Linked DNA regions of Homo sapiens: region 1 is linked to region 2. The links come from fine-mapping of genetic effects on gene expression. A gene starts in region 2. The other region holds a variant in brackets. All regions are shown on one strand. Distances are from middle to middle.

What was found. PIP is the estimated chance that this variant, and not a neighbour inherited with it, causes the effect. A credible set is the group of variants that fine-mapping cannot tell apart.
Region 1: its variant is the best candidate, but not a certain one, in a credible set for the expression of PEX3 in blood mononuclear cells (TOPMed, PIP 0.65).

The regions. Positions count from the first base shown.
Region 1 is chr6:143,485,073-143,490,451 of GRCh38, reverse strand. PEX3 (peroxisomal biogenesis factor 3) reads right to left here. Exons shown (of 12, transcript NM_003630.3): 11 at 5,204-5,300; 12 at 1-1,309. The coding sequence ends at 1,226. Among named protein-coding and RNA genes, the nearest start is that of FUCA2, 24 kb to the left of the region's middle. The variant C/A (reference allele first, on the strand shown) is at 2,576.
Region 2 is chr6:143,447,653-143,453,044 of GRCh38, reverse strand. PEX3 (peroxisomal biogenesis factor 3) reads right to left here and starts at 2,240. Exons shown (of 12, transcript NM_003630.3): 1 at 1,930-2,240. The coding sequence starts at 2,002. ADAT2 (adenosine deaminase tRNA specific 2) reads left to right here and starts at 2,350. Exons shown (of 6, transcript NM_182503.3): 1 at 2,350-2,482. The coding sequence starts at 2,387. It also overlaps the pseudogene RNA5SP221. RefSeq lists enhancers at 2,400-2,559, 2,362-3,344 and silencers at 3,100-3,179, 3,240-3,319.

The DNA.
Region 1 (5,379 bases), 37 kb before region 2:
ACCTATTTTTAAAAACATTCTAGACACAAACTCCCTGGCAGTGAGCTTCAGGCCTAGCCAGGCCTTAGAAGAGATGTCATAATTTATTTTCTACCTTCTACTGTTCAGCTACATGTTACGCTGGAGGAACATAAAACAATGTTACTGAAAATATATGTCAACATACTAATGATATATAATGATTTATTTACTTTTGCCCTAATTACCCTTCTAAATGAAGAATTACAGATGTATTACTAGAGATAATGAATTATTTCTTTTTCAGAAAGTAAAGCTATTTGCTTTTTACTAAATGAACAAGTTAACAACAACAAAAAAGCACCAAGTACACGACCAATTAAAATGAAACTTAAACTAGCATGCTCTCTCTTCCGAAATAATAACAAAAATGCTATGGGATAAGTAAATTAATAGCTGAAAAATATTAACTCAACAAAATAATATTTTACTAAAATAGTTTATTGCAATAAGATTTTCACTGTATTCAAAATCAATACAAAGTAAGTTTTTAAAATTATGTACAAATGATTAAAACTATGTAATTAGGTGAGTAAACAGCATCAACACAATTTTAGCCTCTAAACCAATATGTAACTTTCTAAGGCTTTTTAATAAAACCTTAAAAAATATAGTGAAGAAATAGCAAAGAACATAGTTCATCATAGTTGTTGGAATTCACTATTTCCATAAGAATAAAAAAGTCCTCCATCAAGGTATATTTGAGACAAATAATTTATTATTTTGAAAGGTAGCTGGAGAAAAGTCTGATTCACTTCTGTTTACAGCAGTCTAGGGAACATTATAATTAAATAGCATATTTTTCCAAACTTCACACATCCTAGACCTATGTCTCCAACAGATTTTTCCTCAGTATTAATATGGTAAAGTACACTGAATTTTGTATTTTTATATATATATATGTATATAAAATATCTATATTGATTTTTAGTCAGTTTGGAACAAATGTCCATGTGTAACAAATTATTAACAATTCTGATATTTGCACGTGTATATATATATGCCCACAAAAACTGGTCTGTTGATGAATCTAAAAAAATATATTAAGATGCCAAATAAATTGATTTCATTATGAAATGAAGACTTTTATTAAGAATATATTTTATCAGGCATTTTGATAACAAACTGTTACTCTAAGTATAGGTGATTTACCCAGTGTATTTTAAAAAGTAAATGAATCCCACTGTAGTTTTTCTTGAAGGAAAAATCATTTCTCCAGTTGCTGAGGGGTACTAAAAGCTTCATACACATTAGCAGCAAAGTCTTTCACTTGCTCCATTGTCAACAGATCCTAGCAAAGATGATAATATAACATTATAGTTTGCAAAACATATAGCTAATTTGAATTAATTTCTGCAATCAAGCGATGAATTCAGCTCTAAGTTTTGTGGTAAAGGCCAAGAGGCAAACCATTTAAGAAAATGAGTAGTTTTTCTTGTAATAAATTCTAGGAGATAGTTATTATTTAGGTTCTTATATGAGGGATGATGGTATCATAAGCGTTCAAGTGTGACTTTGAGGGACAAAAACCCCAAATAGTCTTCAAATGAATTTTGGTGTATGTCAAGTGCTAGATAGGTATCTGTTGAATAAATAATTGTAGGAGTAAAGGTACTTTTGCTGGAAGCTGACATAACACGGTTAAGGGTGTATTACTTTCTAGAAGATCTAACATACGGTATGAATATGTGTAGTAAGTGCATATTTTACATATACACACATACATGAACCACACATATACACTATAGTGTAAGGGTTATTAACACCCCAAGGGATTTGCGAATGTGAAGATAAGAAAAAAATTACACCTTCATTTTCTTTAACTTCTAACCAAAATCTGGTATCTCTTTCAATTATGAATGTAGGCAACAAACTGTGATAATATTAGCAGGTTGTATGACTTTGTCTTCAATAGAAATCATAGGCATTTTCATGTCATATGACAGTTGTGGAAGTTATCAGAACTCTCATTATATCTTGGTATTTAATGCATGAATAAAGAAGCAATACCGCTATATCATACACTTAATTTTAAAAGAAATTTTGAAAACTATATATGATTGGTTTCCTTTATAATATTATGTATTTTATTGTATGCACTTATAAATATTGTTCTGAGAAGGGGTCCATAGGCTTCACCAGTCTGTGAAAGGGTCCATGATAGAAAAGGTTGACAGCCTCTGAGAGTGTCAAAGAAATGGGAAGTAAACCTGTCCCTAGTGATCTCTGTTTCTTAAGTATCGGAAAATCCAAGTGAGGTTTAGACATGTCCTAATCTCAATCAATTCATGGTTAAATTATCTCATCAGAGAATTTGATGTTATTTAGTTTCAAGTATTCAGTCTAGGTGTTCAATGAAACATAGGTTTAGATCAATGTTTCTCAAACCAGAATTTACAGACATACTTTCAGGGGCCCAAGAATTTGAGGGGAAATTTTGTGTTTTGATTTCTATGAAAATGTAAAGAAAACTCAAACACGCTCTTGATTATTGAGAAGATAAAATATATAACCTACTATTGTTCCTGATTTTAGGGCATTTGTTTATATTTATGTT[C/A]TTATTGGCTTTAAGTAACATTACTTTAACTGTCTTGTGCTAATGAGAGAAGAACAGAGGCAGAAAATCTTTCAAATGAAGACCAAATCATGTAAAACACATGATACAAATGAAGCTTTCAGAATAGTTACAGTAGATAAAAAAAAAAATACTAGCAAGTCAGCTTCAGAAAATGCAGGCTGAATGCTCAACAGCATGAACAGTAGCAGACAGGTCCACATTCACTTTGGCACAACAAATTATTAATAGTAGACGTCAGCCATATTATAGAACAATCTTTTTTTGTAATTTAGATTCTACTTGACAATAAAAGTGCTTTGGTTTTGAGTTACGAAAAAGCTCTAATCTTAAGGATCTTATTGAGTTTTTAATTTATACACTAAAAATGATTTAAACACTGGAGGACTGTGGTATATGTGTGTACATATGTATGTGAGGTGTATGGACAAATCTGAGAAATACTACCATTGTAGTGCAAAAGCAGCCATAAACAACACATAAACCAATGGGCATGCTGTCACCCAATAAAACTTACAAAAGCTGGTGCTTGGCTGGATTTGGCTCATAGGTCATAGCTAACTTATATCAGCTTTATAATAAAGACTTTAATCTGTTCAAATACTGTATCCTGATGCAGCTTCTAGGATGTTTCAGTAGTCTGAGATAAAAATTATGTATCATAGGGTTGGTTCACACTATAAAAGCTCTTTCCTTATGTTATCTGAAAGCAATCTGAAATAATTTATCTCCTGCTTATGTTATTTGAAAGCTATTTGAAAATAATTTGAAAAACCACCTTTCTCGATTGTTTTCTGATTCTCCCATTTCCTACCTTTACCAACTACCATCCTAATATCTTCTACCAAAGGGGTCAGCAAAGTATGGCCTGCAGGCCAAATCCACTGCCGCCTGTTTTTGTATATAAAGTTTTGTTGAAACAGCCATACTCTTTTGTTCATGTACGTTTCTGACTGCTTTCACACTGCCAGAGCAGAGTTGAATAGTTTCTGTAGAGAATGTATGTTGCATTAAGCCTAAAGTATGTACTATCTGGCCCTGTACAGTTTGCCAAACCCCTGTTCTACAGCATTCCCACCATAGGCTCTCCTACACACCATTGTAGTTGAAGTAGTAGCAGTAATTCGAAAGGACTAATTTTATGTAAATTAGCATTCTAATCAAGGCAAAGGCTTTATAAAAAGATAAGTGGAAATAGTAAAGCATATGACAATTTATTAAGAAGACCACTTGGTATTTTAACTCATAGAAATTATAGTTTAAAAAATTAAACTATAATTGTAATAGCCTTGTCAATCAATGGTCTAGTATATACATTTAATATACATCCAGTTACAGTAAAAAACTTTACTAAACATTAGTATCAATGGCGTTTTTACCATATTGAAACATTTGTTTTTATTATCAATTATATCGATTTTAATTAAAGTGTAGTGCATAAAATTATTTAAGCATTAAGGCTGATGATGCTTTATGCTTGGTTGTAATTTCCACTCATCTGTCAAAATGAACAGCCTACTGGCCAAGCCAGGGACTTCTACAGAAGAGGACAAAGGTAAAGGTAAGGTTTAAATGCCCCAAGTTATGACCTTTTTCTCACATTGATATAGATGTGAAGCTTAACATTCAGTAAAATGAGATCAGTCTTATTCACTATTTCTTCTGCAATATGAGTGCCAAGCTCTTAGGGGTGAGAAAGAGGACAGAAGACTGAAGAGTCCAGTGTGGGAAAATGTGCATGTGAAGGACAGGCTGATGACACCACAGTGAAAGGAGGAAACGAACTCTTAGTCTCAGTGCTCTCCACGTTCCCAAGAGTAAAAAGTCTACAGAGAGGATACACTAAATTGTCTGAGACAAGTTACACTAAGAAGATGTCAGCTTTATGCTTAGGCCATAGGGTCTCTTCTCATTGTACATTATTGAAGCAGTTTGCAACTGGCATTGCAAACAATTTTTTAACTTATAACACAGTTTCCAAGTTTGCACATGACTCAGAAATTCAAAGTTATTTTGTTTATAATATTTGTCTTACTCAATGAATTACTGAATTACTCAATGAATTACTGAATTACTCCATGCATTCCAAATGGAAATGAAGAAATAAGATGGAGTTATAGGTAGTCTGATAAAACATTTAAATGACCCACTGTTTATGTGGCTTTTAGTGAGCATATTATTGATGCACTATTAACTGTTACATTTTATTAATCACTAAAATGCTTTACTTCTCCACAAATTTTTTTAGTTTTCCTCAAAATGTGTAGAACAGGATCCTTGATCTGCCCCAAGGATCAATCTTCTTACTAGCACAGCTTAATGCAAACATTCATGCTATATAAATTCAACTGACCACTATAATACACCTGGACTAAAATGTAGTCCCACAGTGTTGGACTACAACACGGAGAAAGGTACTCCAAACTTACACATTTGCTATGGTCCGTTATTACTCTCATGGGACACTCTACCATACTCTACATGTAGTTCCAAGTTCTGTGATTTTTTGAAAAAACCTCTCAGCAGAGAATGTAACTTTATGTTAGACAAACATGACCACCACCACAAATATAATTTGCTTTTAATAACACTCCCAAGCTTTCTTCTTACCTGAACAAAATGACTAGGTGTTTCACTGCAAACTGAATGGATCTGTCCGTTTACTATTGGAATTATCTTAGCTAAAGGCAGGCTGACACTGGAAAGACTGAAAAATCATTACAGTAATGATTATTTTCTGAAATGACCCCACAGGACTTTAACATCTTAATTATAAAAGTAATACA
Region 2 (5,392 bases):
AATTCTGAGACCTGAGGCAAGTTTCTTAAATTCTTAGGGTTCTTGCTGCCACATTTTTGAATGGGGATAATAATAATTGTCTTCTTGTCATTCTGCTTAAATAGGAAGAGCTTAGCACAATGCCCAGCGTAAAGTGGGCACCCAATAAATAGTAGCTGTTACTATTAAAAATATATAAATCTTGTATTTCCATTTATATTACCTTCAGCATTACAGGCACTTGATAGGTATTTCTTAAGTTAGACTAATTAAAATCTAACACACTGTAGAACTTTCTCCCTGAAGCAGAAAGAACATGAGACTCAAACAAATGCCAACCACGGTCATCTACTCTTCCTTTCTTTTCAGACTGACTCCTTTTTTGATATAAAACACTAGGATTATTTTCTCTTTCTGGCCGTCTGAACTTTTCTATTTTTTGCATTCCTCTTATTCTGTAACTATAAAGCTCTTGTTAGTTTTTTAAAAAAATTATAAGTTTAAGTATACTCTTTTGCTTCCCCTGTGATTATTTCTAATCTACTACAAAGTTGTTCCATAAGCTGAAGGAGTATTCCTTCTGAGATCGCTAAAGAGATAATTTTCCTTCCTTCAGTAAACGCAAAAATACTTTATTTGTATTTCTTCAATCACACATATATTTTTAGCTTTTATAAATAAAATGGACTCTGTAGTCTTAGGATAATTTAAATATACATTAGATACTAGCGACTGAAGATATCAGAAAATACCTTTTATATATAAAGGATTTCTCGAAGGTGTTCAAAATTTACATATGCTTATTATTGATGTGTGATAGACCTCAGAGACATGCAAAACACCATCCTTGGCTCAGCAACAAGAACTCTGTTTCAAACTTTCAAGCATCACCAAAATCTGAACTATTGATGCTAAAGGTATTAATTGCAAATTGTTTGGGGAGAACAGAATACAATCTAATACGTACTGTTAATTTCAAATTGTTTGGGGAGAACAGAATACAATCTAATACTAAGAGAAAAGCCAACCAAATTCTTTGGGAAACTCTGTTCTTGATTTTAAGTACTTTTGTAAACATAGCATGTAATAAGTGATGAGACTATTTCTCAAAAACTCAAGTTCTAACAAATTTCCTCTTTTATAGTTCCTAGATGTCCTTTTCATATAATTCACAAAACTTTTATTCCCTCCTTCAAATCCCTGAATATTATCACATGAGCATTGTATGAGGGAAAAGCGTCTCAAGATTTTTATCTTATCTGTTTCTAAATCTCCTCTGGGCCTGTGCAACTCAGTTATGTCAGCTAGATTACAATGATCCCAACCTTGAAGATCCTGAGGAAGATTGCACAACATCCCTCAAGCATTTTTCTTACTGCCATAGTTTGTATTCTAAAATGGCAGAAACAGAGCTAAAATATTGATTTGTTTTTCTTTATCTAATCCATATCTTTCAGTCCTTTAGGACAACTGCGCTGTTTTCAAAAATTCAAATCGACTTTAACCACCACCCGAAGTGCAGCCTATAGGTAACTTCCCTAGATTATTATTAAACTCCTGAGAAGGGTGAGAGCCAAAGTATCAAGAGTGCCAAGGAGAAATGCAGAATCTCACAGGAAAGCAGAATTTTTTTTAAAAAGTTCCTGTAAGAGAATGGTGCCTTGAAACAGAAACTTAAACTGTGATGAGTTCTCCAAAGGTCCGTGAGAAAAAAGGATAGGTGAGAAACAGAGTTAAGAGTCGGTGACAGGGCAAAGGGCACAGAGGCATTTCTCAACTGCAGAGATGGGAGAACCCTGGAGGTTGGCCACCTCCCTTTTCATCCCATGGTTGATCGAACTCCCTCTACATATCCCAGACTAGGATCGCCCGGCCTGTCCTTATTTTAGAAGAAGTCACCTCTCCCACCCCCTTCTCCCAATGCCCCCTTTCAAGCACGTTGTCACCCACCTCCAAGGACCGTGCCCAGGAAGATGCATTTCTTTTTGTGGCGTTTCAGAAAATTCCATACAGACCTCAGCATCTTTAGGCCCTAGGGGTGTGGGCTGACTAGGGGTGAGGGACTGCTTCACCAGGAAACTGTTTCTTCGTCACCTGGCCCAGATGACCCAGCAAGAGCGCCGTCGTCCCGTTCTGTGCTCTCCCGAAATCACAAACGTGACTTTCCGCAGAGACTGTCACCGGAGCGGCAAGGGGGCGTGGACTACAGCAAAGCAGCTACGCTTTCTGCCGCTGCCGCCGCGCAGCCGCCGCCGCTCACTGGTCCGACAAGCCCAGGTCCGTTCAGAAATAGCTCCCGAGTGCCTTTTCATTAGACTACCCCCGGAAACGGGGTCCCGGGCCCGCCGCGTTCCGCTGCCCGCGCTCCTCCTCTGCCGCGGGCTCTGTAGCTGAGTGGTGGCTGGGTATGGAGGCGAAGGCGGCACCCAAGCCAGCTGCAAGCGGCGCGTGCTCGGTGTCGGCAGAGGAGACCGAAAAGTGGATGGAGGAGGCGATGCACATGGTGAGGAGCCCGGGAGGTAGATGCTGCGGGGTGGGACCTTTCTCCAGCCCTCAACCCGACCCCGGCATTTGAGCAAACGTTCTTTCTCGTCACCATAATTTTTATGGCAGTCAGATGTTCTGGGTGAACAACTGGCTTTACTGCCTCGAAACTTTCTGTAGCCCATTCTCACAGTGGCTCTGGGCGAAGGAAGGGGAGGAAATACACAAATTATTTGTTTCATTGCGGTGGAGTATGCTGCAGACTTAACATTCTGTCGCCGGCTGGCACGTGCTGCCTCCCTTTCCTTTCTGTGGTCACACACTCTCCAATCTACAAAGTCACATTATTTGAGGTTTTGGCCCTTGGAACATGTCCAGCAGAAGGAAGGAAACTGAGAACGTTTCTGGTAGAGAGCAGTATGGAAACAAGTCCCTGTACAATCGGCGTCTCGCATTCATTCATTATTTCCTCTGCCCTTTTACTTCCTTCCCTCACTCCCTTCAGGACTGCGAAATAAAGGGGGCTTTCAACAGAATGCTGTGTGCTAGCGAGCTTCTTAACTGGGAAAAAAAGTTTGTTTGTAAATATATGTATTTACATTTTAATAACTACATACAGCCACGTGCCACACAATGACCTGTCGGTAAAGGTCGTTATCCTGGAGCATTAAATCTACTCACCTTAGCCCTATTGTCCCATCCAAGTACTAACCAGGCCTGACCCTGCTTAGCTTCCGAGATCGGGGGACATTCAGGGTGGTATGGAGGTAGACAACCCTAGTTTCTATGTAGACTTCTGGGCTAAACACTTTCGCTACCTTTTAGGTTGACCCTGGGCTAGCACATGTAAATACATTTACATACGTTTACAAACAAACTTTTATCCCAGTTAAGAAGCTCGCTAGCACTTTTCAGCTCCATTATAATCTTATAGGACCACATATACAGCGGTGGTGCTATAGGATTATAATGAAGCTGAAAAGTTCCTGTTGCCCAGTGACATGTAGCCCTCCTAACAAGTACTTTTTTTCCTTTAAGACCTTGAAGAAACTTGTATATGCTAAAACCCAAGAAGCAGCTGCCTCCTTAATCCTGTGTAGGAGGACGTAAACTATGGAATCACATCCCTAGGTGTTTATAATACAATTAAGAGACAAAAAATGTCAAAGCCAGAGAGGTCTAGAAATTCTTTGAAAACATCTACATGTTTAAAAAGATACAAAGTAGCATGGCCAGATGCAGTGGCTCATGCCTGTAATCCCAAAACTTTGGAAGGCAGAAGCAAGAGGATCTCTTGATCTCAAAAGTTGAAGAACAGCCTGGGCAACTTAGCCAGACCCCGTCACTACTAAATAAAAATTTAAAAATTAGTAGGGCATGGTGGCATGTGCCTGTAGTCCCAACTACTCAGGAGGCTGAGGAAGGTGGATTGCTTGAGCCTTGGGAGATTGAGGTCGCAGTGAGCCGTGTCTGTGCCACTGTACTCCAACCTGGGAGACAGAGCCAGACCCTGTCTCAAAAAAGAAAAAGATACAAAGTAAAGGAAATACAAAGAAGGAAAATATTTGCGACATATATAAAAGGACAGGTTTAATAACCGTAGCATATAATTTATATAAAATCTAAGTACTTTCCGACGTAAAAGGAAAGATGTATACCCTAATACTGAAAAAGGTCAAAGGCTATGAATATATTTCTTTTTAAAATTTCTTTTTATTTTTAGAAGATTTTTTTTTGGTTTAGACAGGGTCTCTCTGTGTTGCCCGAGCTGGTCTTGAACTCCTGGGCCCGGGCAGTTGTCCCACCTCAGCCTCCCAAAGTGCTGGGATTACAGGTGTGAGTTACCACACCTCACCTGAACATGATATTTCTAAAAGAAGTGACGAGTGAGTAGCCAGCAAATAAATGAATACACAATTTCACTATTAATGAAATTCAAATTAAAATGATACACAATTTTTTACCTGTTAAATTGGCAAAAGTGAAAGCAATTTTAATGCTTGGTGATAATAAGGGTGTGCATGTTTGAGGTGTTTGTTGGTTGGGAGGAGCTGAATTTAGAAAACCCTTTTTTTTTGTATGTAACATGTATATTACAGTTTTTATTTAATATGCTGATAAAGTTAACTCTAGTTAAGCCAAAGTTGAAAGTTTTAAGTTTAATTTACTTTTTTTAAATTATTATACTTTAAGTTCTAGGGTACATGTGCACAATGTGCAGGTTTGTTACATATGTATACATGTGCCATGTTGGTGTGCTGCACCCATTAACTCGTCATTTACATTAGGTATATCTCCTAATGCTATCCCTCCCCTCTCCCCCCAACCCCATGACAGGCCCCGGTGTGTGATGTTCCCCACCCTGTGTCCAAGTGTTCTCATTGTTCAATTCCCATCTATGAGTGAGAACATGCGGTGTTTGGTTTTCTGTCCTTGTGATAGTTTGCTCAGAATGATGGTTAACAGCTTCATCCATGTCCCTACAAATGAAAAGGATGAACTCATCCTTTTTTATGGCTGCATAGTATTCCATGGTGTATATGAGCCACATTTGCTTAATCCAGTCTATAATTGATGGACATTTGGGTTGAGTTCCAAGTCTTTGCTATTGTGAATAGTGCCTCAATAAACATTCTTGTGCATGTGTCTTTATAGCAGCATGATTTATAATCCTTTGGGTATATGCTCAGTAATGGGATGGCTGGGTCAAATGGCATTTCTAGTTTTAGATCCTTGAGGAATCGCCACACTGTCTTCCACAATGGTTGAACTAGTTTACAGTCCCACCAACAGTGTAAAAGCGTAGAACACCCTTTTATTAGGACAATTTGGCTAGGCAGATATAAAAGGCCTTAAAAGTGAGCTTATCCTTTGATCCAGTAATGCCCTTTTTTTTTTTCCCAAAGTGAAAATATTTTAATGTTTTCTT